4 linked regions of the Homo sapiens genome follow. The protein of the gene in region 3 purifies or fractionates together with the protein of the main gene of each other region. This does not show direct contact. Each region holds a gene or a part of one and is shown on either strand. Other genes may lie near its edges. The genes, in order: MANEA, SLC9A1, AOC3 and ARL6IP6.

Region 1 (7,493 bases), on a different chromosome or scaffold from region 3:
TCCCAGCACTTTGGGAGGCAGAGGCGGGTGGATCACGAGGTCAGGAGATCGAGACCATCCTGGCTAACACGGTGAAACCCCATCTCTACTAAAAATACAAAAAATTAGCCAGGCGTGGTGGCAGGCACCTGTAGTCCCAGCTACTCGGGAGGCTGAAGCAGGAGAATGGCATGAACCCTGGAGGCGGAGCTTGCAGTGAGCGGAGATAGTGCCACTGCACTCCAGCCTGGGCAACAGAGTGAGACGCCGTCTCAAAAAAAAAAAAAAAAAAGAAATGACAATTTAAAAAGTAAATACTGTTAACAATAAAATATATGAGGAATAAGTACTTTTCACTGTGGAATTAGGAGAGGTATCAAGAAGAGGCAGCATTTCAACTTTGACTTGAAGGTGACTGGTATTTCAATAGTTGGTCATATAGAGAATAGGCATTTAGAATAAAATGTGTTATATTTTAATTGCTTGTCGGACACCCATCTTTAATCATCATCATAAACAATTGCTCATTTATTTAGTCTTATACTAAGCCACATGATTTTGAGAGTTTTACAATATTAACTAATTTCATCCTCACAAAAATCCTATGAGTGAAGTAATAACTCATTCTATGGGTGAGGAAAGGAACTCAGAAAGATCAGGTCAGTTTTGTAGGTCAGATAACTAAAAAATGGCACAGCTGGAATTTGAGCTCAAGCATTTGAACTACAGAGCTCATATTTTAAATCTCAATGCCCATCTGTGTTTATTTAGGTTGAGATGACTTAATTGAGACATGGAGGTTGAGCCAGAGCCAGCAGATCATCTCTTAAAATTGAGCTTGTGTGTCATCTATAATGATGTGATAAACACACATTTTAATTGAATGAATGAAGTAATGTAAAATGAGAAGACAGAGGATCAGCTTAAGAAATTACATTCATAGGCAAGAGAGAGAGAAAAAAAAACAGCTTCCATAAATGGACATTTTGTGCTTTGTATTCATGAGTGTATCCAGAAAATGAACCTAAGAAATTTTTTAGAGTTTCCAATATTTCTTCACTTTTCATTTATTTATAAATTCATTAGTATTTACTGTTTGATTAAAACATTACTGTTTCAAATTGTCTTGCATGATTCACAGAATAGTTTTATCAGTAGGCAAAACAGATACCCTCTTTTTTAAGAAAAGGCTAAGTGATTTACCCAGGATCACACAACTAAGTGTGACTGATTTGAATTTACATCTTAAGATTTATTATATATCTTGATCTTTCATGAATCTCGCCATTCAGCTGAAGTCAACGTTTCAAAAATGAATGCCTTACTAATTTATAAATCTGTTAGTTATTTCTCCTTTCTCTGTAACTCTTCCAACATTCATTACCATTGTTTTTTTCCTTATAGAATACCTATCCAAATGTTTTCCTTCTGAAGTATTATGTTCTACTTTTAGAAAACAGAGTAAGAAAATATCACTGTTGTCTCATCCAGACATAACTATTTTACATGTTTAAGTATATTTCCTTCTATGTGTATCTTTAATACAGATATGATATTATATATCATAGTAGTTGATATATTACATCCAAAATATTATTTTTGCTTCATGTCTCATCAAAATTTTCCCTTTCTTCAATCAAAGGGAAATGTTTGTTGTGATGTCAATGATTTGAAAATTTCAGGACAACAAATTACAGTGGCATGCCAAAATGGTTGTATCATCTTTTTTTTTTTTTTTTTTTTTTTTTTTTGAGACGGAGTCTTGCTCTGTCGCCGAGGCTGGAGTGCAGTGGCGCGATCTCTGCTCACTACAAGCTCTGCCTCCCAGGTTCACACCATTCTCCTGCCTCAGCCTCCCGAGTAGCTGGGACTACAGGTGCCCACCACCATGCCTGGCTAATTTTTTGTATTTTTAGTAGAGATGGAGTTTCACCGTGTTAGGCAGGATGGTCTTGATCTCCTGACCTCGTGATCTGCCTGCCTCAGCCTCCCAAAGTGCTGGGATTACAGGCGTGAGCCACCACGCCCAGCCCATCCTTTTATACCTGTTAGTGCAACAGGACTGCCACAGCTCACATGTAGAAATTTCACTTCACAGAGTCATGTAGTGCAGGGTTTGAAAGACTTTGTGACTTAGCCCTTTCCAGAAATAAGCAGGTATGTTAACAGCTCACATTCTTCTATTTACTGCTGGGATAAATAGCACAAACAATTTCTGTTTACTTTTCCTGCATATTCACCATATGGTAATATTTTACCATATTTGCTTACCATTATACACAAACACACATACCCTTACTTATTATACGTTGCATTGTATGTAAGCCATACATTTTATATATAGTGTATGTATGTGGTGTACATATATGTATGAATATGTGTGTATTTATGTATATGTGTGTATCCTCTCTTTAATATATTGTCTCATGGTTCCTCGTGATTAGATCTGGATTAATTTTTAACAAGAGTACCACAGCAGTGATTCTGTGTTTTTCTCAGTACGGGTTCGCTGAAGACTAATGGCCATACTTATTTATCCAAATTAACTGATAAAGTCAATTTTGATCACTAGTTTAAATTGGTGTTTTGGTAGGTTTTCCACTGTTATTATTTCCCCATTTGTAATTAATTAGATATCTTCTGGAGGAACATTTTGTCAGTATGTATATAGTTATTAAAACAAAATCTCCAGACCTGTCTACCTATTCCTTTACTAAAAGTTCATTTACATAGCTTTTTATTAGAGAGGGAGGGAACTGATGTGATGGAATGCAGGGATGGGTAAGAGTTAGGATACCAGGTAAAGTGTCAGAAAAGATTTAGTAATTAATATTGTTTCCCAAGAGTTTTATAAATTTAAATACATTTAATTATGTATATATAATCATACATATTTATATCTAAATATATATGACATGTATCCATATATAACATAAGATGCACAATATGTAAATACACATATATGTGCATGTATGTGTACATATGCACATACACACGTTTATGTATGTACCTGCATGCCTTGATATATTTACAGTATGCATATCGTATATACAGTATACATATATACATATATGACGTATATATGTACACACACCATATTTACTTAAAGTTTGAAACAGACAAAATACAGTTAACTTTAGTTAGATATGCTTGTGTGCGGTGGGAAAACTATAAAGAAAGAAGAGGTGAAATGGTAAACACAAAATTCAAGCAGTTGCCCTTAGGCAGGGAGAAGGGCAGGACTGGTGATTCAGAGGGAGCACGAGAAGTGGAAAGGAGCTTTTAAGCTGGCAGATTTCTTTTTGAATGTTTACTTTATATGTTTTAAACTAGACATGTCTTTTATACTATTCTTTTATGTTATTCTTTATATTATTCACTATTCACAATTAAACAAGATTAACCTTAAAAATAATTCTTATGATTTTAGCTGTTAAAGAAATATACTTGGTTAGTTTAGTGTTTCTTAAATACATGTAGAATAGTGTTGTGGGAAGTCAGGGACCCCGAACGGAGGGACTGACTGGAGCTGCAGCAGAGGAACATAAATTGTGAAGATTTCATGGACATTTATCACTTCCCTAAGAATACTCTTATAATTTCTTATGCCTGTCTTACTTTAATCTCTTAATCCTCTTATCTTCGTAAACTGAGGATGTACGTCACCTCAGGACCACTATAATTGTGTTAACTGTACAAATTGATTGTAAAACGTGTGTTTGAACAATATGAAATCAGTGCACCTTGAAAAAGAACAGAGTAACAGCGATTTTTAAGACAGCGATAAAGTCTGACTGCCTGTGGGGTCGGGCAAAAAGAGCCATATTTTTCTTCTTGCAGAGAGCCTATAAATGGACGTGCAAGTAGGAGAGGTATCACTAAATTCTTTTCCTAGCAAGGAACATTAATATTAAGACCCTAGGAAAAGAATTGCATTCCTCGGGGGAGGTCTATAAGCGGCCGCTCTGGGAGTGTCTGTCCTATGCGGTTGAGATAAGGACTGAGATACGCCCTGGTCTCCTCCAGTACCCCACCCTGGTGAATTTGAGGTCAGACTGGTTCTCTGCTCTCGAACCCTGTTTTCTGTTGTTTAAGATGTTTATCAAGACAGTAGGTGCACAGCTGAACATAGACCCTTACCAGTAGTTCTGTTTTGCCTTTTCTCCTGTTTCCCCAGAAGCATGTGATCTTTGTTCTCCTTTTTGCCCTTTGAAGTATGTGATCTTGTGAGTTACTCCCTGTTCTTGGACCCCCTCCCCTTTTGAAATTCTTAATAAAATTTGCTGGTTTTGTGGCTCAGGTGGGCATCATGGTCCTACCGATATGTGATGTCACCCCCGGTGGCCCAACTGTAAAATTCCTCTCTTTGTACTCTCTCTCTTATTTCTCAGACTGGTTGACATTTATGGAAAATAGAAAGAACCTACGTTGAAATATTGGGGATGGGTTCCCCCGATAGAATAGAAGCAGCAGTTTGTAGGAAGTTTCACTTGTCTTTCTTTTCTATTGGAGTTAAGTCTTTTTTAACTTAATTCTCTATAATAACAGCACCGTATCATAGAACTCATTTTATAAAGCAGTCAATGTCAGCATTGTGCCAAATACCTTTCTAATAAGAAATCTGTATATAAAAAGACTTGAATATTTCATTCATATGGTGTATATGTACCTATATACTTATACTCATATATATATATATATACACACACAACAATAATGTCTTTTCTTAATCAGCCAAGAAGCACTGCATTAATATATGTCCATAAACATACTTACTAAAACAAAAACACATATAATACCCTTTCAGAAGTTATAAATTACTGTTTATAACCTCTGTTCAGTAAGATTTTCAGAGTCGTAAGTTAATTTTATTTTTGGAGACGTTTTCTTGCACTGTCACCCAGGCTGGAGTGCAGTGGCACAATCATGGCTCACTGCAGCCTTGACCTTCTGGGCTCAAGCAATCCACCTGCCTCAGCCTCATGAGTAGCTGGGGAACTACAGGCACACACCACCATGCCTAGCCAATTTTTTAAAAGTTTGTGTAGGGATGGGGTCTCCCCGTGGTTGTCCAGGCTGGTCTCAAACTGCTGAACTCAAGTGATCTTCCTGCCTCAGCCTTCCAAAGTGCTGGGATTACAGGCATGAGCCATCATGCCCAGCCTAATGAATTTTTTGAAAAAATTGGGAATATCTTACTTGTGATTATTCTTTTTTTCTCTACTGTCATTTAAAAAATTTTGTCTGATTCTATTTCACTTCAAAATGTTATTTAAAATTTGTAATTTTTCCCTTTTATGAAATTGTTAGTTAAAAATTTTTTAGAAAATCTGTTTAATGACTGGGTTTTTCATACACTAGTAAGTATTTCCTTTTTATTAACTGTGATTTGTAAATTTTACACTTAGATTTAGAAAATTTTAGTTCAGGCCAGGTGTGTGGTGACTCATACCTGTAATCCTAGCAATGTGGGAGGCTGAGACAGGAGGATCGCTTGAGCCCAAGAGTTCAAGACCAGCCTGGTCAACATAGTGAGACCTTGTCTCTACAATAAATAAATAAATGATTTTTAAACAGAATTTTAGTTCACATACATAGAATGTTCCCTTCCTACATTCAGCATACATGTAATCTGTTCAAGTAATGAAAAACATATTTTAATTTCTTAAATAAAATTTCCTAAAGGTTCGTCTGACTAAACGTAATTGGCATGTACATGGTGATATATCCAAATGAATATTGCCGTTTATTCTAGCCATAGACCCTTATTGTACACATTTATATATGATGATATAATTAATGTCTTCACTTTCTTAATTTCACCAATATGTGATGAAATCAGTATTAATTATTCAATGTAATGAAATTTATGGATTTTAGTTTTCGTGTTGAATATATTGGAAAATACTGTTGATAACACTTACTAATTATCTTTTTTCAATAAATTGCAGCAAAACACTTACTATTTTGGAGTTTAAAGTATGTCATCATGGCAAAGTTTCGGAGAAGGACTTGCATCATTTTGGCACTTTTTATTCTATTTATTTTCTCTCTGATGATGGGTTTAAAAATGCTGAGACCAAATACAGCTACTTTTGGAGCTCCTTTTGGACTTGACCTTCTTCCAGAACTTCATCAACGAACTATTCATTTGGGGAAAAATTTTGATTTCCAAAAGAGTGACAGAATCAACAGTGAAACAAATACCAAGAATTTAAAAAGTGTTGAAATCACTATGAAACCTTCCAAAGCCTCTGAACTTAACTTGGATGAACTACCACCTCTGAACAATTATCTACATGTATTTTATTACAGTTGGTATGGAAATCCACAATTTGATGGTAAATATATACATTGGAATCATCCAGTGTTAGAGCATTGGGACCCTAGAATAGCCAAGAATTATCCACAAGGGAGACACAACCCTCCAGATGACATTGGCTCCAGCTTTTATCCTGAATTGGGAAGTTACAGTTCTCGGGATCCTTCTGTCATAGAAACTCACATGAGACAAATGCGCTCAGCTTCAATTGGTAATTATTGTATATATATATATGTGTGTTTGTGTCTGTATATATGCATATAAATGATTTTTTGTGTAACTTTACTAGTTAATTTTCTCATTATTATTAATTATATTGTTAAGCTCATACCTCCAAATTAAACTGTATGTATGATCTTAAACATCCAGGCAACCACATTTTAACACTGCCCTTAGTGTATATTGTTTAATTTTTACATTTTGGAGCATTTCTGGATATATTGTTGATTTCTAATTTAATTCACTTTCTCAATTTTATTAAATTATGATTTACATAAAATACAATGAATTTCCCACTTTAAGTTTATAGCTCATTGATGTTACTCAAAAGTATATACCTGTTTGAATACCACCCCAATCAAGAAGTAAAATATTTCTATAGCCCAAAAAGTCTCATCATAATTCCTTTATTCAGGCCTACCTTCTCCCCTACCGCTGAAAACTGTATACATATCAGCTGGATCTGATTTCTATCAGATCTGATTTCTATCACTGGAGAATAGTTGTGAGTGTTCTATTACTTTATGAAAATAGAGTCATTCAGCATTTGTATGTGTGTATGTCTTTTGCTCAGCACAATATTTTGAACTGCACTTAACTATATCAATAGCTTAGTCATTTTTATTGATGAGAAGTCTCCTATTGTTTGATTTTGGCAAATTTGCTTTTATATTCACCTGTTGATAGGTGTTTGGGCTTTTTCAAATTTTAGGCATGTAGCATGTAATTTAGTCCTGCTTTTCTGTTTCTTAAAGTTATTCTGTCAGTCTTAATGTCTGTTTATTTCATTTATGTTTAATGTAATAATGATATGATTTTAAATCTGCCATTTTTCTGTTTATTTTCCATTTGTCCCACACGTCTGTTTCTTTTTTTCCTTCTTTTTCTTCCTTCTCTTACATTACATATGCGTATTATTCTGTTTTATATTTTCTTCTGGCTTATGTTATTCATTTGTTTTATTTATAACTGT
Region 2 (7,493 bases), on a different chromosome or scaffold from region 3:
AAGACCCTGAAGCCAAACTGCCTGGACTGGAATCCTGGCTCTGCCACTCCTGAGTTGTGTACAGGAAGCAAATTCATCTCCCTGTGTTTCAGTTTTCCTGTCTATAAAATGAGGATAATAATACCAAATCTTAGGACTGCTGTGAGGACTAAATCAGCGAATCAAGTGCTCGGAGCCTTACCTGATGCAGTGTTAGCCACATCTGGTGCTATCAAGTCTGCCTCTCACTGCCTGACCTTGGGCACGTCATGCCCATCACTGGGTTTCAGTCCCTCCTTCAGCACAAAAAAGGGACGTTCACACAATGAACTAGAATGTCATTTCTTAACCTCTGGAGCTTTCTGAAAATACACATGTTCAGGCCATACTGGACTTGGACTCTCTGGGATAGGGCCAAGAAATCTCTATGTAACAAGCACCCCAGGGGTTGCAATGAACAGCCAAGTTCAGATGCTATGGAATTAGAGGCTAAGGCATCCCTGTCTCCTGGACTGGGAAATAGATGGTCATTGCAACACTACCATCAGATGTTTAAGTGGCACTTCATACACTGTAAAGCCCTTTGATAGTCTTTATCTGAGTCGACACTCAACAACCATGCGAGGCAGGTGGGTCAAGGATGCTCCTTTGCTAAACCGAGGCTCACAGTGGTAAAACAACACGCCAGGGGGCCCCCAGCCCAGGAGCAGAAGAACTGGGCCCAGAACTTATTCCCTGACAGCCATGGCTGAGGCCTCCCCAGCAGGCTCAGCTTTGAGGATCTGCCCCTCCTATTGCTAGGTCCCTGAGCTGCCTGGCCTACTCAAGTCTGTCCTAGACAGCTCTGCCAGGAAGGAGCAGGGAGTTTCCAGGCCTGGGGGAAGGGAGGGAAGGACGTGAGGATCCATGACAGGGAACCCTCCAAAGCCCCCAGGACCTGGAGCAGGAGGAATGGACCGTGAGGAGTGACCTGTCTAGGGCACAGACCTGAGACCAGGCAGCTCAGGGTCAGCCTCTGGCTTTACTCTCTGGGAAATGGGGCACTCACACCTATGCCAAGAGCTCCAGAAAGACCTGACTTGGGCCAGGCAGCAAGGGGAGATGCAGAGCACTGGCCAGGCCTGGTGCGGCCTGGCCCCAGCTGTCTGGGGGATAGGACAGGGCTCCAGCGGCAGACAGCCTCTTAGCAGGTGCGTACTCAGCCGTGGGCTAAACTCATTCCTGGCCTGAGGGGATTCATGGGTCCTCATGGTCTACCACATGGGCCCATGGAGTCGGCACAGAGGGGAAAGTCCTCCTTTCTGGCCTGGTGCTATTACCCCTGGAACTATAGAGAAACAGAGTAACACAGTGGTAAGCACTTGGGCTTTGGACTCAGACTACGGATTTGAACCTCAGCTATATCATATATCAGGCTTATGTAACCTCTCCGTTCCTCAGTTTCCTCATCGCAAAAAAACTGGAATATAACTGTGTCAACCTCATGGAGTTACTGTATAGATTAAATGAGGCAACATAGGCCAGACACAGTGGCTCACGCCTGTAATCTCAGCACTTTGGGAGGCCAAAGAGGGAGCATCGCTTGTGCCCGGGAGCTTGAGACCAGCCCAGGCAACATAATGAGACCCCATATCTACAAAATAAATAAATAAATAAATAAATAAATTAGCTGGGTGTGATGGCCAGCACCTGCAGTCCCAGCTACTTGGGAGGCTAAGAGGGGATGATCATTTGAGGAGTTTGAGGGTGCAGTGAGCTATGATTGTGCTACTGCACTCCTGAGTGACACTGTCTGTGTGACAGGAGACTCTGTCTCTAAATAAATAAATAAAAATGAGGCAATACACATTCAGACAGGAAGCACCCAATGAACACCAGCAATCACTACCACCGCTGCCACTGCCTTTGGGAGACATGACCATGGGTCCACAAATGGCTGGGTCTGTTACCTGCTTGATGCAACCATGCCCCAAGCTCCACAGCAGTGCTCACCTGAACCCCAACACCCAGATCCCACTGGAGAGGGCTTTATCTTTGGCACTCACTGGCTTCACAGACATTAGTGAGTATGACTCACTAATGTAAGTAATCCTGTAAGAAGCCTGGGAGGATGACAGGCTGAGTACTGCAATCCCTGTGTCACAGATGGGGAAACTCAGGCTCATGTGGTAACCCTGGGCAAGAGCTAGTGCTAGAGGAAGCCAGGATGGAGGCCTGCCTGCTCAGGTCAGGCTATTCTACCCAGCCCCATGAGGAGGCGTGGGAGGAACAGGAAGCTGAGGCTGCCAGCAGCTGAACACCACAGTCTGTCTCTACTCTGAGGTGCTGCTTCCTGAAGGCTGGGGCTGCAGAGGAGGGAGTCATGGCCTGGGAATGCACATGTGCCCTTGAGCTTTCCTGTGTGTGCAGCTGCTCTGAGCGGGACAGCTCAGGAGGGGGTGGGAGTGTTCTCACAACACAACGTGAGCATGCACATGCACACATCTGTTTCCCAAGGAAACCAGCTGGGAGGAAGGGCATGTGCAGGTGTATATGGTGCTACCACGTGCAGACCCTGGAGGAAAGCACTAATCCTCTGCCACTTTGCAGCTATCAAAGGTGAGGCTGGCTGGGCGCAGTGGCTCATGCCTGTAATCCCAGCACTTTGGGAGGCTGAGGTGGGCGGATCACCTGAGGTCAGGAGTTCGAGATTAGCCTGGCCAACATGGCGAAACCCAGTCTCTACTAAAAACACAAAAATTAGCTGGGCATGGTGACACACGCCTGTAATCCCAGCTACTTGGGAGGCTGAGGCAGGAGAATTGCTTGAACCTGGGAGGCGGAGGTTGCAGTGAGCTGAGCTTGCGTCACTGCACTCCTGTCTGGGAGACAGAGCAAGACTCCATCTCAAAAAAAAAAAAAAAAAAAAAAGGTGAGGGCCACAGAGGTATAGCATTTGCTTAAGGTCACACAGCAAGCAAGTGGCCAACTTCTTTTACTTATCACCTTCTAGATGTTTTGGAGACAAGGCCCCTTTCCATAATCTCCGCCCAAAAACTGTGCACAAACCGAATTCTAACTTAAGATATAGCCAACATGAGAGCTGAAAGGCCCCTCACAGATGATATGGTCTGTGAAGAGGGAACTGAGGCACAGAGAGTGTAAGTAATTTGCCCAAGCTCACATCAAAATGCAAGAGAAGGGCCAGGCTTGTTGGCTTAGGTCTGTAATCTCAGCACTTTGGGAGGCCGAGGCAGGAGGATGGTTTGAGGCCAAGAGTTCAAGACCAGCCTGGGCAACATGGTCAAACCCCATCTCCACAAAAAATTTAAAAAATTAGCCGGGTGTGGTGGTGCATGCCTGTAGTCCTAGCCACTCGGAAGGCTGAGGCAGGAGGATCTCAGGCCCAGGTATTTGAGGCTGCAGTGAGTTATGACCGTACCAGTTCACCAGCCTAGAAGACAGGGCAAGACCCTGTCTCTTAAAAAACAAAAAGCAAGTCAAGTCAAGGAGGGAGCATATAACCTAGCAAAACCAAGAGCTTAGGCCCTGGAGTCAGTCAGACCTGGTTCAATCACAAACTGGTTCATACTCCAACAGGTTATTTAACTTCTTTGGGCCTGTGTCTCCCCTGGAAAATGAGAATAATAAGCACCTCTTAAGGCAGCCATGAGGACTTAAATGAGATAATCCATGCCGAAGGGCTCAGCATGGTGCCTGGCATACGGGAAGCGGGAATGTGCCTCAGCTGTTTTTATTACTGTTATTAGCGGGTGGATGAGGGATTCACTGGTGGGCCTGGATTTGGGTTTGTACCGTTTGGACATGGGCATGGCCCCTGGCCTCCTCACCACAGTGACGGCGTCATTGAGCAAGGACTCCCCAAAAACAAGGATGTGCAGCAGCTCATTGATGTGAATTTCCTCAAAGACAGCCAGAACCGCCACGGGGTCCACGGCCGAGATGATGCTGCCGAAGAGCAGGTTGTCCAGGAGGCCGATGTTGTTGATCTGCTCACCGCCCACCAGGCACACGGCGTACATGAGGCCGCCCAGGAAGAAGGCGTTCCACAGCGTGCCCACCACGGCAAAGATCAGGATGGTGCCCAGGTTTTCTGTGAACTGCCGCAGTGGCAGGAAGTAGCCCGCATCCAGGATGATGGGCGGCAGCAGGAAGAGGAAGAAGACGTCGGACTGCAGGAAGGGGGGTGTCTCGCCTACACCCTTGATCAGGCCCCCCACCAGCAGCCCCACCACGATCAGCAGGCAGCTCTCCGGGACGATGCTTGAGATAGTGGGGATCACATGGAAACCTGCGGAGGGCGAGAGAACGGGAGGCCATGGGCTTTCGGAGGAGCCAGGAGAATAGAAGGTTGGGGATGGGCCGGGGATGAGGAGCGCAGTTGGTGAGAGGTGCACAGGCTGGGTCTCAGAGGGCTGCTCTGTTAACTCTCTGAGCCTCCGCTTCCTCGCCTGTAAAATGGAAGGGACAATGCTAGCTTCACAGGTTTGCCATCATAAACCAAGTGACAGTGTTTTTAAAGCACTTTTTTCAAAGGATATATACATGCTATCTCTGTCACTGTCATAAAATGTTAGAAAGCAGCAGTTCTATATGCTTCCAGAAGGCAGAAATTATAAATTGATTACTGACGTGCCAAGTACCTACGGGCATCACCTACGCCTGAACCCAAGGCATTATTCCAGGCACAAGTTCAGGGAGGCAGATCTGAGCTCAACCTGAGGAATAACAATCTAACAATTCTGTCTGAGGGAAGATGGTAGTTCCCTATCACGGAGCTGTTTAAGCAGAAGGCAGACAACCAGCTGGTGGGGAGTGGCATAGGAGACAGAAGAAAGCACAGAAGAATCTAAGAATACCAGCGTGGGAAGGAACTTGGGGATAATAAGGCCTGGGGTCTGCAAACCTGCAAAACAGTAGGCTTTCCTACTGAGTCCAGGCAGCTGCTCAAGACACGGCTCAAGGATGTCAGTGGCAACCAGCTTTGGCAGGTGAGATAAAATCTATTTGCTATCCCGCTTCTAGCTCAATGCCACCCACTTTAAAGATGGGGCAACTAAGGCTCAGAAAAGGGAAGGGACTTGCCCAAAGTCACACAGCAAGTGGGGAGCAGAACTAGAATAGAACACAGGTCTGATGCCCCAGTTCCCATCAAACTGCACAGTTCTGTAATTCAAGCTCTCCTATCCTTCCCTCCCATCAAGGCCTCCTCACACACCCCTCTGCCTGGGACCCACCAGCCATCTCCCCAGGCCGTGTCCTGGCCAGCAACAGGCCGCTCTGCTGTAGTCCACCTTAAGGCTTCAAACCCAGAGCTGAGGAGTAGCAAAAATCCCCGTTGAGAGGGCCTCTCTCAATATCAGGTATGGCCAGAGAACCCTGAGCTCCTGTGAGTGGTTTACTTGTTTGTTTTGTTTTGGGGTGGGAAAGTAGGTGGAAAAAAATCTGAGCATCTAGTTGTATGTTGGGTACTATGCTCCCAGGGTTGGCATAGCCAAGAGGGTTTGTCCCTTTGCTCAAGAGGAAAGCTCTCTCTGGCCTGGCATGGTGGCTCATGCCTGTATCCCAGCATTTTAGGAGGCTGAGGTGGGAGGAACACTTGAGGCCAATAATTTGACACCAGCTTGTACAACATAGGAGACCTCATCTCCACTTAAAAAAAATAGCTGGGCATGGTATGCACCTGTAGTCTCAGCTAGTTAGGAGGGCCGAGGCAGGAAGATCACTTGAGCCCAGCCTCAAAAAAAAAAAAGAAAGAAGAAAGCAAAGCTCTCTCTCCTCCCCTTCCCTATCTTGCAAGCTCTGTGCAGGCAGATCCCATAACTGCTTATCATTATACACCCAGGGCTAGGACACAAGAAGTGCTCAACAAATATCAGCTGACTTGAAAATACACAGGGCTGGGACATCACCCAAGATTTCCGATAACCTGCATGCCTGGCCAGGCCTCTGCTCTCATTACTTACTCTTGAGATCCTTGGGACAGAGGAGGAACTTCCCTCTCCATGCCCAAAGCCCTTCCTACTCTCAGGTAGGAATCTGGGCAGTGCTAGTACGGTGACAAGTCAAAGTTCACACTGCTGGCTGGGCACGGTAGCTCACGCCTGTAATCCCAGCACTTTGGGAGGCCGAGGTGGGTGGATCACCTGAGGTCAGGAATTCAAGACCAGCCTGACCAATATGGTGAAACCCTGTCTCTACTAAAAATATAAAAATTGGCCAGGCGTGGTGGTGGGTGCTTGTATTCCCAGCTACTTGGGAGGCTGAGACAGGAGAATTGCTTGAACACAGGAGGTAGAAGTTGCAGTGAGCCGAGATCACGCCACTGAGCTCCAGCCAAGATCACTCCACTGCACTCCAGCCTGGGCAACAGAGCAAGACTCCATCTTGAAAAAAAAAAGTTCACACACTGAACACTATCCAGGCCCAGAATCCTGGCACAGTGCCAAGCACCCTGAAGACACTCAAAACACATTGGGAAAAAAAGATGTCTCCATCCTAGGCCAAGAGGACCTCGAAGGCACCATGTGCATTCTCCTGATTTCAAAATAGACATGACCAAAAGTCACTTTTTGTTCATCTACTTCCCACATCAATAAAAGGGAAAATAATTCCAAAATCACCCCTTTTGCTGAAAAGTCCCCCAGTCTTTGTACTGTCCACCAGTCAACATCCAGTGTGTAGCTGGCTGGTCCACTGGGAAGGGCTAGTCATGTTGGACCCAAGTCTCTCTTGCTGTAGAGGATAAAGCCCACATTTTCAGCACTGCCTCTGTCATCTGCTCTTGCCTCATGTCCCATTCTCCCCACTGTCAACTCTTAGGTTTCAGCCTTGCCAAATTCCTTGCAATTGCCCCATATGAGCCACATCCTCTTTTGCCTGCCAATCTTCACCTAGTCTAGTTCCTCTCTCTAGAAATCATTCCTCTACCTCTACCCCCACCATATGTGGCTGACACCATATCCTCTGCCTGCCTCCTCCTTCAGGAAGCATTCCCTGACCACCACCTGTCTGCTCAGGTTAGGGCAGGAATCTTCTGGTGCTTCCCTCTCTCATAACCTTCAATCCACAGTCATCTCCCAGGTTCCTCTCTCTCTTCCTGGCACCCACCGAGATCAGTCAGACAACCCAGGCAGAAGCAGCTGAGACAAGACAATGGCATCAGACCCCAAAGACCTGCAGTGTGCTGGAGGGGAGACAGGCACAGCGCAGCGGAGATAAGCAGGATGAAGATTTAGGGGAGCAGAGCTCCTACAGGCAGGGGCCAGAAAGCACCTTCCCAAGGCCGGAAGTCCAGCTCCAGCCAGCTGCATGCTGACCCCCCTCCACAGCCTCCCTGCCCCTGTCCTGGCGTTAGCACCAAGAGCTGCCTTAAGAGAAGGCAGAGTCTAAAGAGATAGTCCAGGGTAGGCAGATGATGGCTTCCACCTCCACCTAAGGGGTCGGGCTCTAAAAATGCCTCCTACCCTCACTCTGTGCCATCAACCCAATCCACAGAGCTTTCCTGGCCCCAT
Region 3 (8,450 bases):
ACCATATCCTCGGCCCAGACCCAGTTCTCCAGTCCTGCTCAGGGTGGGATAGGGGAGGGCCTGTCAGGCAACTGCCCTGGCCCCTCTGGACTCTGCCCCCATCTGGCTTCAGAGTGGGGGCCAAAGAGCAGCCCAGAACTGAGTGTGCCCCTCCTTCTCTTCCCTCTCCCCAGGATACCTCCAATCCTTTAGCCAAAGCTGTTGACCTGTAAATTAAAATACTTCATCAGGGAGTTCATTCCATTTCACTCATTCATTCTTTCAACATTCATTAGCAGAGAGGACTGTACTCGTCCCTGGGGATAGAGATGAATGATCATCCTTACCCTCTTGCTTTCCACGCAGACAGACAAACCACTGACTGGCCTGTCCTGTGAGAGGAGCATGGCCTAGGCAACTTCCGGATCACAGGAATACAGTTGCAGGCAGGAAAAGGGGGCCCTTCCGGGCAACTTTTCAGCCTGGCCTTAAAGGACATTACCAGAAAAGATGATATGGAAGGACATTCTAAGCAGAGACAAAGCATAAGCAAACAGGAGGATGCCTGACTGTAACATGTGAAGTGCGTGTCCAGGGACATGGAGAATTTGGGTGTAGCTGTGCAGAGCACAGCAAGGCAGGGTGGAGCTGCACCGTGAAGGAAAGAGTTTTGAGGGGGTTCTGCAGACAGGATCCCACAGGTGATGACGAAAGTGAGAGCTGAGTAAAGGGCAGGCTGGTGTGGATGGGAGGCCCTCTGGGTGCAGAGTGGCTCTTGGCTCTGAGAGCAACAAGAGCAAAAACAGCAGAGAGAGGGCTGGCACCTGCACGGCATGACAGTCTGACCTGCCGAGATACTGCAGGTGCAAAACAGAAACAAAACAAAATAAAACAAAACCAAAAAAAAACACCTGGTGACTGACTCAATGTGGGGAAAGACAGTGAAAAGACAAAGATGAAGACTCCAAGCCATCATGTAGCCTTGGCTCTCTCTGTGACCAGACTCCAGGATCTATCCAGAATGCTCCACGGGATCCATGTGACCCCTCACACTTAGGTGAATTGTGCCCAGAGAAAGAAGGAAAATCAGGGAGGAGGGTCCATCTCCAAAGGAAATGTACAACCTGGAATGACTGACCTGCACATGCCAGGGACGTGGTAGAATGCAAAGAGATCCTCCAAAACACCACCACCACAGGCCAGACACAGAACTGAGCTGACAAACAGAAGGCTGCTCCCAGCAGCAGAGCCCATATAAGTACAAGGGAGAGAAGAGGGCAATGGGGACACTGTTAGCCCAAATCCTGCCTCCTCCCTGAGCTCGGCCATTTCCCAAGATCTTTGGATGAGGTCACGTAGAGGAAGGCTGCAGCTTTGCACCCAGCCAGTGAGCTAAGATCCAAATAAAACTCAGCAGCCAACTCTCTCCCATCCAGCAAAAGGGGAAGTACAAAAATCCACGTCTTCCTTTCTGGGATAATCTACATAAAACCCAAAGCTAATGGAAACAACTTTTCAGCCCTTCTTCCAGAAGCCTTCTCCCCACCAAAATGTCTTACCTGCTACATCCAGATCCACCTTGAAGTGGGCGCTGTGGGTGTGGACCGTGCCCAGGGTGTGCTCTGACACTTGGTTCCCGTACTTCCCAGTAGCACCAAAGAGGAATGCCGAGCTGATGTAGCCCGTGGCATAGAATCGTATTTCTATGGCCCCACTGGGGTGGAAGACCGTATCCCACACATAGTCATAGTTGAGCAAGGTGGACATAGATCTGACGACCAGCACCGTTTCCGCAAGACCCCCAAAGTAGTGCGAGTAGAGATCTGAGTGGTGTCGCCGCAGGGGGAGGCCCTGGTTCTGTTCAAACACACAAAAGGCATCACGTATTGTCTTGGGGGCCTGGGACTCCAAAAGGAAGTGCCAGTCCACGTAGGTGGCCAAGTAGGGGCAGTCCACCCCACGGGTCAGGGGCGTGGTGTACTTGCCCATGCCAAAGCCTCCATCCACATAGCGGGTCGTCATTGCTGCTGGGGAATTTCCACCATAGATGGCCAAGGCCTCTTGGAGGCTTATCTCATAAACTAGTCTTTCTCCTTGGAAGCGAACGTCAAAGATCCTTGGGCCACTGAATGCTCCGAGGCCAAAGGAGAAAGTCCACAGTGAGGAGGCCACTCGACTTCCCTGGACACTGAAGCGGGGGCCTTGGGGATAGAACTGTAGAGGGGGAGCTGGACCCGGGGGCACAGGGGACTTCAGGGACCAGGACCCACCTGTGCCATTGTCTGGGATCAGCACCACATTCACCAGGCCGGCCTCAAACTGGGCCTCCAGCTGGGCCAGGCTGTCGTAGTAGCGGCCTTGATAGAACACCTTCTGGATAGTCCAGCGGGCAGGGTCAAGGGCCTTGTGGTTCACTAGCAGCTCCAAGCCCACGTGGTGCAGGAAGAACCCAGCGCCCGAGATGTTGTAGTAGAGGCCAAACCAGGTGGCCCGGTCCCCTGATTGCAGACCACGGGGAGCCGTGGTCATTGTCACCAGGTTCCGTCCCCGGTGCTTGTAGAAGCAACAGTGGTGGAGAAGCCCAGAAGCCTGGGGCAGCTCTCTGTTGAAGATCATCTGGTCTATGTCCAGGTACTCTTGGAACAGCACGGGGCGTCGGTGATAGGGCAGGGGGCCTCCATGACGCTCCACAGTCACGTCCCGCATGTAGGAGGGGTGAGGCAGTGGCCCCACCACCAGCTCACTCACGTTGGGCTGGGGTTGCCTGCCAAAGAAGACGATGGCCAGTGCCTCCCGGGCAGGTGGGGGGCTCCCCCTGTCCAAGTGAGCCAGGGCTGCAGCCTTGGGAGGCAGCTGCAACTCCACTGAGAAGACACAGTTGTCCGAGGGCCGGGCCTGGGCTGCATCCACCAGCCCTGGCCCCAGCCGCTGGGTCAGAAAGCGCATCACAGCCGTCAGCTCCTCTCGGCTCAGGTCTGCAAACAGCTGGCTCTGGCCAGGGTGTGTCCAAGGCTGGGCACTGGGAGATACAGAGGGGCAATGGGGAAGCTGGCTGGGTTCACCCCCATCTCCACCCCTGCCCACCAGCAGGACACAAACCAAGGCAAAGATGGTGATGACGGCCAGAATGAGGAGCACGAGGATTGTCTTCTGGTTCATTTTCCCACGAAGAGGGACAGCTGATTCAACCAAAGGAGAGCAATGTATTCTCACGCCAGCAAGACGGGGGCTCTGTTGGCTCCTGGACGGGGTGGGGGGCTCCCGGACTCTGGCTGAGGTTCCCGGTAGTCAGATGCCTGGGACTAAGGGTGGGAAGGACACAGGAAGGCTAGGGCAAGGGGGCGGGGTGGCCGGGGTTGGAGGCGGGTCTGAACAGCTGTGATTTCCACAGACCTTACATGGTTTTGTCTTCCAGCCTCCAAATCACTCTACTTTCTGGGTCAGGGTTGGAGTTGGGGAGAGTTGGGGCTAGGGGGAAGGGGAAGGAAAATTTCAAGATAATGCAGCACTGGGAAGGAGCAGGATCTGTGCAGAGCAGCCTCTCCTGACCTCAGCCCAGCTTCTTCCCCAGTCCCCCACTTAGTCAGGGCCAGATATTTTCCTGTAACTTCAAACTATCGTTTTCCTTCCAAAGACCCCCACCCCCTGCCCCTTTAGCTTTCCAAATGACATTCCTTGGCCAGGTCTATCCCCCTTGCCCTCTGGCCCCCAGCGCTAATTTCCCTGGCCAGACTCCTTAGTATTCTCCAGAGGACTCTAGATACTTAACAGGTCAAACAATAAATTCAAGTAAAATTCCTCTAATACTTTTTATTATAAATTACATACAACATCTGTTTTACAAAATTCTATCTACTCTTCCTTTTGAATGCACATGCATAAAGAGATGTCTGATGTAATGTGACCACCTATTTCTGAGTAGTAGGATTTGTGATATTTTTCTTTGAATATTTAAAAATCATTTTTATAATTTAACACTTTAGAGATGAACAGGAAGTAAGAATTAACCAAAGGGACTGATGGGGGTTTCGTGTGAGAGGAACATTGAGGGGGTGGGAATCTGGGGAGCAGGTGTGATAAAAACACGGAGAATAGAAAGTAGAAACAGGGAAAAGTACATGTGCCTAACCACGCCGCCCGCCACACCCTCAGGACTAGAAGCCGTGGTAAGAGAAAGGGGGTAAGTCCGGGACACAGGCTGCCAGGTCGGGGAGGCAGGCCACAGGATTGATGCTGCAGAGCCCAGCATCCTGGCCCTTCTCAAAGTAGACACTGCCAGGGGAGAAGATGGAGGGGTCCTCATCAAAGAAGTTATAGGGTCGGAGCAAGAAGCCAACTCTGTTCCCCAGAGTCACTGTGTTTGGGATGTCCTCGGCATGGGGAATGTGCAGGAAGCTGGCTGTGACCCAAGCCACCAGATCCTGCAAGAAGAAGGAGGAGCTGGAGGACTATGGAAGCGTGACCCAAAGAACCACCCTTCAGTCACAATCCCAGCCTCCAGTCTCAGCCTGGCTTCCACTCTCCCCAGCCTCATGCCCATACAACACGTGGAGCAATCCATGTAAGCAGCTGTGCGGGGAGAGGGGGGAGCCAGTGTCCCAGAGCTAATCTCACCCCAGGAGGGATGACCTGTGTTGGTCATCAGAAAACTCCATGGCCTCTGAATCTGCGAACTGGAAATCAGCCATTCCCTCTAACCTTTGGCCAGAGGCTGGGCAGCCAAGATGCCATGCCCACAGGTGTCCCTTTCCTATGTCCCTAGGGCAACCAACCTCTCCTAAGAGGGTTTCATTGTTGATGAAGTCAGCAAAGGTAACTGTGGGTGTCCAGATGTCATTCTGGTGATAGATGCTACTGCTCTGTGACTCCTCCTCCTTTCTCTGGGTCACCACAAGCTGGTATCTGGCCAGGAATCATAAGAAGGTGGTTTTGGGAAATGTCAAGTGCCTTTACTGGCCCAGGAGTCCCTTAGATCCGATTCTGTGTGAGACCATTTCCCACCGTGTATCTAACTTGGGTTTGAGGGGAGGTACAGGGATGAATGGTAGCCGTGGGAAGGGAGTTTGTCTCCAAGGACTGGGGCAGGGGAGGGGCTGTCCTTTCCTTCCACCCAGGCCAGGGCCCTCCTCACCTCCCCCAGCTGAGGGCCCTCTCCATGTCACTCTCCAGGGGTATGTGTATGCCAAGGGGGCTGTGGATCTGGATTCGGTACCCGCGCTGGTGACCCCACGCATTAGTCTGGTTGCTAGCCAGGTAGAGGTAGCGGGGTAGGGGGCTTCCCAAGGAAAAAGCTGTCAGGTCCTCCTTTCCCAGGACCTGCCGAGTCAGCTGTGGGCGCTGTAGCCAGTGCTCCGGGTTCCAGGGGGCAGCCACAGGTTTAAACACCACGTCTTCAGCTACCACCCAGTTTTTCAGCCCTGCCAGGGGGAGGGAAAGGAGATGAGTTCCACACCAGGTAAGGTCTCTGGGCCAGGTCCCTGTCTTCCCCATGATGTCCACTGCACTGGTGTGACAAAAGGCAGAGAGAGCATCAGAGCACACTGTGCTGGGAGCCAGGAGGTCTGGGCAAGAGCAAGCTCCTATCTTCTTCCAACTTGCCCTATCCGATAGGGTAACCACTAGCCACACGTGGCTATGAAAATTAAAACTTAGGGCCAGCTGAGGTGGCTCACACCTGCAATCCCAGCACTTTGGGAGGCTGAGGCGGGTGGATCATGTGAGCCCAGGAGTTTGAGACCAGCCTGTGCAACGTGGTGAAACCCTGACTCTACAAACAATAAAAAAATCAGCCAGGCATGGTGGTACATGCCTGTGGTCCCAGTTACTTGGGAAGCTGGGGTAGGAGGATTGCTTGAGCCCAGTAGGTTGTGGCTGCAATGAGCTGAGGTCACACCACTGCACTCTAGCCTGGGCAACAGAGCAAGACTCTGTCTAAAATATATATATATATATATATGTATATATATATATATATATATTCAGTTCCTCTGTCACACTAGCCACACTTGAAGTGCCCAGTTGCCACACATGGCTAGTGACTATTGTTTAGAGCCACAGCTCAAATACGGAATATTTCTATCACTACAGAAAGTTCTATTAGCACTGGACTACCAAACAGTCCCTGGACCAATTTGCTTCTCTGATTCACTTTCTGAATCCCTACACTGGGCATAATTAAAGCTGTTCTATGGCTGTGCCCAATAAACAGAAAAGCACTTGCAGCTGACTAGTGACATTCTTTTAACTATGAAAGGGATAATGATATTTGTCTTGGAGAAGCTAGCTGAAAAACTGACTCCTGAGCCGGGTGTGGCAGCTTGCAACTCAGGAGGCTGGTGGCAGGGTGATGCAGATCCCTTGAACCCAGGTGCTGGACACCAGCTGGGGTAACGGAATGAAACACTGCCTCTTAAAAAAAAAAAAAAAAAAAAAAAAAAGGCCGGGCATGGTAGCTCACAGCACTTTGGGAAGCCGAGGCGAGTGGATCACTTGAGACCGGGAGTTCAAGATGAGCCTGGCCAACATGGTGAAACCCCATCTCTACTTAAATAAATAAATAATTTAAAAAAATTAGCCAGGTGTGGTGGTGTGCTACTCTGGAGGCCGAGACACAAGAATCGCTTGAACCTGGGAGGTGGAGGTTGCGGTGAACTGAGATTGCACCACCGTGCTCCAGCCTGGGCAACAGAGTGAGACTCTGTCTTCAAAAAAAAAAAAAAAGCTGGGCGTGGTAGTGTATGCCTGTCATCCCAGCTACTAAGGAGGCTGAGGCAGGAGGATTGCTTGAGCCCAGGAGGTCAGGGCTGCAGTAACCTGTGATTGCACCGCTGCACTCCAGCCTGGGTGACAGTGAGACACTGCCTCAAAAAAAGAAAACCCAATCCCTTCCCATGGTCCCCTGCATACTCCTCCCAGCTCTGAGACTTCACTTTTGATCTCAGCAAGGTGGGAAGTACTGTCAGTGTTTTTCAGAAGCAAGCACATTCATACCTTTGTCTGGGAGTTCCTTGGAATTCTACAGCATCCATAACCTGCACTGCCTAACTCAGCACTTGGTCATACACTTTCTGCAGGTCTGGACTGTAAGTTCAACGAGACCTATATGAAGGTACCTGGCACGGGAGGCACTGCACTGAAGCTGGTGCCTCTGCAGCCATCCTGTGAGCTGGTGCCTGACACAGCCTCTCTGGCCCACAGCAGCAGCCCATGCTGCACACGCTAGGGGTCCAATAAATGTTACTTCCCAAAACAAGCCTCTTTAATGCCAAAGATGCTGAAGAAAAACTTCCAATCAGAAGACAAGTCAAAATCCAAGTATGTCAAAGAGTAATCTAGTTAATATGATCATTTCAATCATGCTATTAGTCCTTCCTACCCTCCACACCACTGCGAACACAAGTGCAAGTGCATGCACAGAGACACACGCAGGCACGCACGTGCCATGTCTTTAGACTTGAGGATAAGAAAACATTTCACAAGAAATACTAGTTTATGTTGCATTATACTTGGGCAGTCATTTCCTGTCCCATCTCCCGCCACCCTCCTTAGTTTCCCTTAAAATGGAGAGGGTCTGGTGAGTTTCTAATTTTCTTTGTGGATCAGTGTGTGAGTCTGTAAGTTCCTTTCTGTCCTTGACAAAGTCTGTCAGGAACAGCAAGTCCTCTGTGTGCTTTGAGCCCTTTGTGCTTGAGAAATCTCTTTCCATACTTGCAGCAAGCTGTGTGCCTGCCATGAGTCAACTGTGATGACAGGAATGGGATGGCCCTCCCGATGAGGAGTGGCCCTATCCTGGGGAGCAACCCCAGCTTTGCTACCCTCTCCTTCCTAAGCCCCAGGTCGACCCCCACCCTGAAGACTCTGGACAGACTTCTTCCGACCTCGGCTCAGGACCCTGCCCTCCCCACCCCTACTGACCCTCAGAATTAGGAAGAAGCAAAGTGCTCCAACTCCAGCCCCATTGGGCCAGTTCACCCACCCAGTGTCACTTGAGGCTAAGGCAATCATGCCCAGCCATTACATTTAAACTAGTTTCACAATCATAGCAAGTCAGAGGGGCTGGGCGGGGGAACTCTTTTCACCTTTTACCAGATACCCAGTAGCCCAGTACCAGACTCACTGCACTGAATATGCTCAAACAGTCCCTGCCCTGTTGCCACTAGAGCTGTGGTGTTGGAACACCCTGCTCTTGCCACTTGTTATTTCAGCTTGACCTGGGAGATTCCCTTCCCTTCCCTCCACCCCACCTGACCCCGCCCCCAAGTCTCCATCCTCATCCCCTCAGCACTCACCTGCCACATCCAGGTCCAGCTTGAAGTGGAAGGCATGTGTGTGCACCGTTCCCAGCACTCTTTCCCCCACACGGTTCCCAAAGAGGAGGCCCTCCTCTCCCCCTTTCAGGAAAGCTGTGTTGATATAACCCGTGGCATGGACCCGCCCTTCAAGTGCCCCATTTGGGTACAACACAAAGTCCC
Region 4 (7,493 bases), on a different chromosome or scaffold from region 3:
CCACCACATTCAGCTAATTTCTGTACTTTTAGTAGAGACGAGGTTTCACCATGTTGGCCAGGCTGGTCTTGATCTCTTGACCTCATGATCCGCCTGCCTGGGGCTCTCAAAGTTCTGGGATTTCAGTCAGACGCCACCACGTCTGGCCAATGAAATGATGTATACTAATCTTTTCCATCAATTGAAACCTCTTAAGACTGTTTTCATCCAAAGCAAAAACAGGGATGGGTAGGAATTTCCTATCCCAATCCCTTTGCTGGAATATTATAGACACCTATCTAAGGGTATATTTGTTTTGGCTTATTTTTCAAAATAAGCCATTCTGGTGTCAGGGAGCAGTTACTCTTCTAAAAATATGCTGGCAACTTTATTTCTATAAAACCTTCCAGCAAAAGAGGCTGTTATATGCTCTAAATATTTTCATTTTGTTTAACAGTTTTAGCTTACGGGGATGAGGCAACTTTCAAGAAGTTTTATGAAGTCAGACACAGAGGCACCAATTTACACATATTATATATAATCAGAATACACCAGAAAAAAACAAAACTCTCATGGTTCCTATACTAGGGAAAGGTTTCCTATTAAATAAGTGTTAGGCAATCAATTGCACACACTTCATAAAACTTCATAAGTAAACAATGGGATTAAACGTGACTGTATACTAGTAATTTCCAAGTCCTGGGTAAGAGATTCTGACATTTGAAATGTTTAAATAAACTGGTATACTTATATTATGAAATACAATGCAGTCATGAAAAAATGAGGTAGACCTATGTATACTAATACAGAATATACTCCAAAAGGCACTTTAACAAGGCTGCAAAATATACATGATTCCAATTATATTTTTCCTATAACAGTGAAAAAAACATGTATTTTAAATGACTATACATATGTAAACAAAGAGAAAAAGATGTAAAAAGACACACAGGTAGATCGGTGAAAGCCTTTGCTTTAATTGTTGGAATCTTTCCTGGTGAGATTAAATTACTTACGTAACTAATGCATTTTATGATACTAACAATGAAAATACAATACAATCATACACTGATGACAGGGATATGTTCTGAGAAATGCATCATTAGGTGATTTCGTTGTTGTTTGTACATCACAAGAGCGTACTTACAAAAACCTAGGTATATAGCCTACTACACACCTATGAGCTATACAGTTATATCCTATTATTCCAATGCTACAGACCTGTGCGGCATGTTACTATACCAAATACTGCACGCGACTGTAATACAACAATAAGTACTTGTGTATCTGAACATACTTAAATATAGAAAAGGTACAGTAAAAATACAGTGTAAAAGATAAAATATGGTACACCTGTATAGGGTACTTACAATGAATGGAGCTTACAGGACAAAGAGTTGCTCTGGGTCAATCAGTGAGCGAGTGACTGATGAGTGAAGGTGAAGGCCAAGGACACTACTGTCCACTACAATAGACTATTATAAACACTGTACACTTAGGTTACGCTAAATTAAAAAATTTTTCTCTTCATTAATAAATTAACCTTAGCTTACTGTAACTTTCTTACTTTATAAATTTTAAAATTTAACTTTACCCTTTTCTACTAACAGTTTAAAACAAAAGGACACTGTACAGCTGTGCAAAAATGTTTTTTCTTTATACCATTACTCTATAAGCTTCTATTTCTAATTTTTTAGTTTTTAAACTTCTTTGTTGAAATCTAAGACACACACACATTAGCCTAGGCCTACATAGGGTCAAGGTAATATCACTGTTTTTCACTGTCACATCTTTTTCCACTGAAAGGTCTTCAAGGGCAACAACATGCATGAAACTGTCATCTCCTATGACAACAATGCCTTCTTCTGGGATACCTCCTGAAGGACCTGCCTGAGGCTGTTTTACAGTCAACTTTTTTTAAGCAGAAGTAATATAATCTAAAACAATAAGAAGCATAGTAAATACATAAACCAGTAACATAATTGTTTATCAAGAATTATGTTATGTACTGCACGTAATTGTGCTGTATTTTTTTTTATGACTGGAAGGTTATATAAAACTAGATTGGTAATAGGTTGGTTTATACCAGCATCAACACCAACATGTGAGCAATATATTGTACTACCAAGTTAGGACAGTTGCAATGCCACTAAATAGGAATTTTTCAGCTCCACTGTAATCTTATGGGACCACCATCATACAGGCATATATGCAGACCACTGTTGACCAAAATGGTATGTGGTGTATGGCTGTACTTAGCTAACTTTAAAAGTTGTAAAAACTATTACCAGCTGGCTACTAATAAAACTTAGATGTATCATATGCATGAAACTAACCATCAATTTTTAAATGTTTATGTAAGCAAATGTTCTCAACTTTATTAGATTCTATAGTTTTCTAACTTGAGAGGATGACCATTATTTTAAATAATTTGGTATCCTCTCTAAATCACATTCTATAGATAGCTCAAGTCTTTAAATCCCTAGAGCAAAGTGTCTCTTTACACGTCAAAGCCAAGTGCAGGAGCAGAGGAAAGTGCTCTCTCCTCTCCTGCCAATGCAACATGAGCATAGTGGGTGCAGAGTGCATGGTAGCTATAGCAGTTACACTGGTTAAGGCCTTCACCCAATCGCCCGACCACCTGCAACCCAGACTGTAGCATTTCTACATCTTTCTGTTGAAACAGATGAGGAAGGTGATCCTCTGACAGATTAAGTGACTGAAATTTCAAAAATAAATAACACCTGTAGTTCCCAACATTGGTAAATCATTAGATTCACATGGGAAAATTAAAAAAAAAACCCAACACTTTTATTACAGATCATTTCAAACACAGGAAAAAGTTGAGAGAAGTATATAAAACTCATATACCCATCATCCAGCTTTAAACAATTAATTCATGGGCAATCCTGTTAAATTTATATTCTCCTCTGAAGCTTGTAATCTTCAGTATAACAGGGAAAACAGTCATCAATATTTTTATCATATAAGTCCAAAGAGGCTTTTTTATTTCCTTTATTTTCATGACACTTGAAGAATAATTTAGAGAGCAAAAAGACAGCAGGAAAAAAACTTTGTTAAAAATTTTCATAAGAAATAAATACAGCAAATCCGAATTTCAATTCCCAGTTTCCCTAAAGTCATGTACACCAAAAATGGGCACGACCTGAGTGCAAATAATTGCTTACTAACTTCATGTATGAATCTACAACATATCCATCTTGTAAATACCACTTCCAGATTTCAGATACATCTCAAATTGGTTACAGCTTGTCATTATTCCTGCTTTTTTTTTTTGCACTTGCGTCATTAAAACACAATGTTTGAAGGAATTTTTAAGCCTTTCATGGCTTATTTTGACGAAAAGAGGACAACAATCTTCTTTGCTCCATAATTTGTAACATATTTTCATTTTTAGATTACAAACAATTCAAATGGTCAACCCAATAATTCTTTTTTGCATTTTTTTTTCCAAATCACCTTTGTATACACATCTGCCCTTAGCATCTGTCCACTTACAAACAGTATCAAATAAATTAGGATGCAGACCTCATAAAAGATGAAAAAAATACTTAAAGTCTTAGGAAAGTCTTACTGGAATCCTAATTCCATCATAATTATTTTATTCTTTCGACCATAGTTGAGAATTGATGAGTAATACTAAAATAATGAAATAGGAGAATGTTTTGAGAAAGAACAATATGTGACCACTAAAATCCCAAAACGTATTTCAAAATTAAAAAATGTCCAATAGACCAATGTGGTAATTTCAAGATCAAATAAACTTTATGAGAAATATAGCTCAGTTTTCTTTATTCTTTTGAAGATCCCTAAGAAAGAATAAGTCATGAAATTTCAATCCTTACAAACAGAACTGCTCGAAATAATTCAGAAATGAAAAATGGTCCAATGAGCCCTGATTGTACAGTGTACACTGACACATACAGCCAATTAAGTTACTTCGATTCAGTAGATAATTATAGGGTCTAAGATTCCGTAAAAGCAAAAAAAGAAAATCTCCAGGGTCTTCGTTTTTTTGCTTTTTTTTTTATGTCAGGTTTGGGAACTACTAGGCCAGTGGTGTTCAAAGTATATATAGCCCCCTAACTAGCAGCATGCAGAGCATCAACTCAAAACTTGTCAAAAATGAAAATTCTTGGGCTCCATCTCACACTACTGAGTCAGATATTCTGCACCATGTGAAGAGCAGCAAAATTTATCTTTCAGGTGATTCTGATGCCAGCTAACTTTTGACTTCATTAGCCTAAGAAACGTCCCTCCCAACCACCAAAGTTGGACTACAGAGTACCACACAATGTCAACTCAATTTATTGAGATTTAGGGGTCCTAATGTCTGGTTCTTATTACTGCTTTTATGTGTTAAGAAGAGTCCTGTAATAATTTCATGACTAATAATTTAGCTGCACATGGCTAATTCTTGCTGATAACCCATTCTTTTTCTGCCTTGCTATACTACCTAGACTATCTATGGTATAAAAATTATAATACATACTTTCTTGAGTTTTGGTTTAGAAGAAAATAACATTGATGGATACAGTGTAGTTGAGAATACTAGAGGAAATAACACACAAATTAATGGCTTTTGGCATATTGTAAAAGTGCAATAAATGGTGTTATTGTTAATTACTGAAACATTATTCTCTAAACTTAAATTTGTGCTTTCCCTTAAAGTTTTTCTTATTGCAAGTTACACTTATACATTGTAGAAAATAAAAATAATAAATACAACCAATCAATTCGGAAACCCAGATAAACTAACATTTTGATTATATCCTTCCAGTCCTTTTTGGCTTTCTCTCTTTTTTTTTTTTTTTTTTGGCCTTAGTCATCATTTCTTGAATAATACAAATAGGTAAGACAATTTTACAAAAATTGTGCTATAGAATAGGATATTTGTGACTTTTTAGATGAAATATTAGAGCTACCCCACCCAGCCACAGATAGCACTGTAACACTTTCTTAATAGAGTATAGGTTCAAATTATAAAGTCCACACACTGGCTAAAAAGTTCAAGTTCAGAGTTTCAATCAATTTTCATTGTAAGGATGAAACTGAGTTTTACTCAACTTGTGTCTTTTTAAGAGAATGGGCCACCTCCCACACATCCTTTCTCTTGGACTTTTTTTAACACTTCTAATGTTCTGTATCACGAAATCATGATGGCCAAAACAAAATCTACAGGTGCTTTTAAAAAAGCAAGTCCCCAAGTGATTGTTACCCATACCAAAATGAGAATTGCTGCTATAATCTGTTCTTACTGACTGCCATGCCAATCTTGGACTAGGATTAAATTGCAATTAAATTCTGCAGTGTACAAAATTTTTGTCAGTCTGTCTAGAAAAAGAAAGAGAACTCTTTCATGGTAGAGCAGTTACTGTGCTCACGTTGCTTTTTCTAAAAACCAACCTACTTTCAAACAAAGAATGAGGAAATTTGCAGTAAATTTTAAATATGAGTCACGGAAATATTAAGATAATAGCATGTGTGGGCAATAATAAGTATGCCAAGAAATAAAGAGTAATATACAAAACAATCAAACATTATTACATTTGGCTACGAGGTTCCTAATAAACAGGGCAAAATAAATAGTGAAATATAATAAAATCGTTATCATCTGATAAAAGGCTGCATGGTACTTTTCCCAAACGTAATGGATGACTTCAACACATTTTCTTATTAAATATTTCAAATTGTTTCTTCATGTGAAAACTGTCTTATTAATTGTAAAAAGGATGTAACTTCATAGGCATCTCCTCAGGGGTAAACTAATGAGGCAATTTTTCTTGATATCTAAGTTAATCAACTCAGCGTTGATTTAGATGGAAGTCAAGTTTGAGAGAACCATCCTACCTTTTCAGCTATCAATTATCTCAAGAGGAGTTTTAACCAGAGGACAGGAGTCAATTCAAAACATTCTGTAAATAGGCTAACTTGTATTTTTCTTGAAAACAGTAGAGAATTGCAGCTTAGAAAAAAAGGCAGGTGTTGCCACAATTACCTCAATCTTTTGTTTTGTTTTGAGTTGGAGTCTTGCTCTGTTGCTGAGGATGGAATGCAGTGGCGCAATCTTGGCTCACTGCAACCTCCACCTCCCCGGTTCAAGTGATTCTCCTGCCTCAGCCTCCCGAGTAGGTGGGATTACAGGCCTGTGCCACCATGCCCAGCTAATTTTGTTTTTGTATTTTTAGTAAAGGCGGGGTTTCACCATGTTGTTCAGGCTGGTCTCGAACTCCTGACCTCAAGTGATCCACCCGCCTCGGCCTCCCAAAGTGTTGGGATTATACGTGTGAGCCACCGCGCGTGGCCGATCACCTCAATCTTATTAAGAGCTTAATCATCTTGGCCCTGTTTCACTGAAACAGATTTTTAAGAATCCTCTTCTGGTAGAGACAACTATTCTCTATCCATATGTTATAATACATACATCTGCTATAACTATTCTTTAAAATTAACCCCCAGGAAACTGATTGAATTAGCCCATTAAATGATATTAACTATTTTTATTCTCCATCTGACCACTGGAGCTCATCTGACCATTGGTTCAAAATAATGAGCTTTGTTTTGGCATAGCTGTTGGGTTTTTTTCACCATAAAGATACAACACTTTCTGCTCATTCCTGACTCTTGACAATAAATTCATGCCATTAGCAAAATCTTAATGATTTTCCTATTTGCTGTAAAAATATTAAGTATCTATCATGCATACCTAAAAGCAACATGGGATTATTTAACCCTAAGTGGAAAAGGAAGCAGGACCATGTCAAAAGACCTATCACATTCCTTTTGATATTGAGCAAGCCATTCCTTCAGATAACAACTGCCCGTCATTCTACTCCTAAATGAGAAATCAGGACAACTTTTAAACAGCAAAAGGTTTAGAATTCATGCCTAATTCATAAGATTCTGTTTCCACTGCATCAAGAGGTGACAGATCAATAAAAGCTCTGAGAAGCCTAATAATCTTGGCTTATTTCTAGAGATAAAACAATGTAAAAACATACACTGATAAAATGAGTAACTAAAAAGTATGTTTTCTCATGCAAGATGTTGACAAGAACAGACAAAAGTTTCCATGCAATATCTAAGAAACCAACTTCTTTGCAATTTGAAGATAAAGGGTTCATGTTTCCCCTTCTGCTGAAATAAGGTACACTATACTTAGTGTCACCATAAGGGTGATTAGCCATAAAGTGGTAGATTAGAGAGTTTAGGAAAGAATGGGAGAGGGGAGGACATGTGTCATAGTGTCTCAACCACCTATCTACAGTGATCAAATCAAATGATTTAATTTAAAGTGATCACATCAAATGACTTGATTCATGTGATCGAATGTAGAGTGATTAAGTTTGATCTCCCCTCCCCAATTTAGAGTGATCAAAGCAAATAGGAGTAAAATATGCTGGACAGGTAAAGTTTTCAACTCTTCAGAATCATTTTGGTGGAGAGAAATATAGAATAACCTTTTTCACTGGAAACCTGTGAACTACAGCATT

What was found.
Region 1: the proteins of AOC3 (region 3) and MANEA purify together in Homo sapiens (affinity purification with mass spectrometry; 2 studies listed by BioGRID and IntAct, with this or other methods). This does not show direct contact.
Region 2: the proteins of AOC3 (region 3) and SLC9A1 purify together in Homo sapiens (affinity purification with mass spectrometry; 2 studies listed by BioGRID and IntAct, with this or other methods). This does not show direct contact.
Region 4: the proteins of AOC3 (region 3) and ARL6IP6 purify together in Homo sapiens (affinity purification with mass spectrometry; 2 studies listed by BioGRID and IntAct, with this or other methods). This does not show direct contact.

The regions. Positions count from the first base shown.
Region 1 is NC_000006.12:95,580,472-95,587,964, forward strand, and holds part of MANEA (glycoprotein endo-alpha-1,2-mannosidase), read left to right. Parts: intron 1-5,930; 5' UTR 5,931-5,968; coding exon 5,969-6,512; intron 6,513-7,493.
Region 2 is NC_000001.11:27,110,017-27,117,509, forward strand, and holds part of SLC9A1 (sodium/hydrogen exchanger 1), read right to left. Parts: intron 4,271-7,493; coding exon 3,810-4,270; intron 1-3,809. UniProt on the Homo sapiens protein: Electroneutral Na(+) /H(+) antiporter that extrudes Na(+) in exchange for external protons driven by the inward sodium ion chemical gradient, protecting cells from acidification that occurs from metabolism.
Region 3 is NC_000017.11:42,846,032-42,854,481, reverse strand, and holds the start of AOC3 (amine oxidase [copper-containing] 3), read right to left. Parts: upstream 3,284-8,450; 5' UTR 3,139-3,283; coding exon 1,539-3,138; intron 1,211-1,538; coding exon of another isoform or gene 1,118-1,210; intron 467-1,117; coding exon of another isoform or gene 390-466; exon of another isoform or gene 35-389; coding exon 1-34. Other genes in the region: AOC2 (amine oxidase [copper-containing] 2), read right to left, coding at 4,134-4,400, 4,752-4,881, 5,111-5,396, 8,268-8,450. UniProt on the Homo sapiens protein: Catalyzes the oxidative deamination of primary amines to the corresponding aldehydes with the concomitant production of hydrogen peroxide and ammonia. Has a preference for the primary monoamines methylamine and benzylamine.
Region 4 is NC_000002.12:152,721,434-152,728,926, reverse strand, and holds part of ARL6IP6 (ADP-ribosylation factor-like protein 6-interacting protein 6), read right to left. Parts: intron 1-7,493.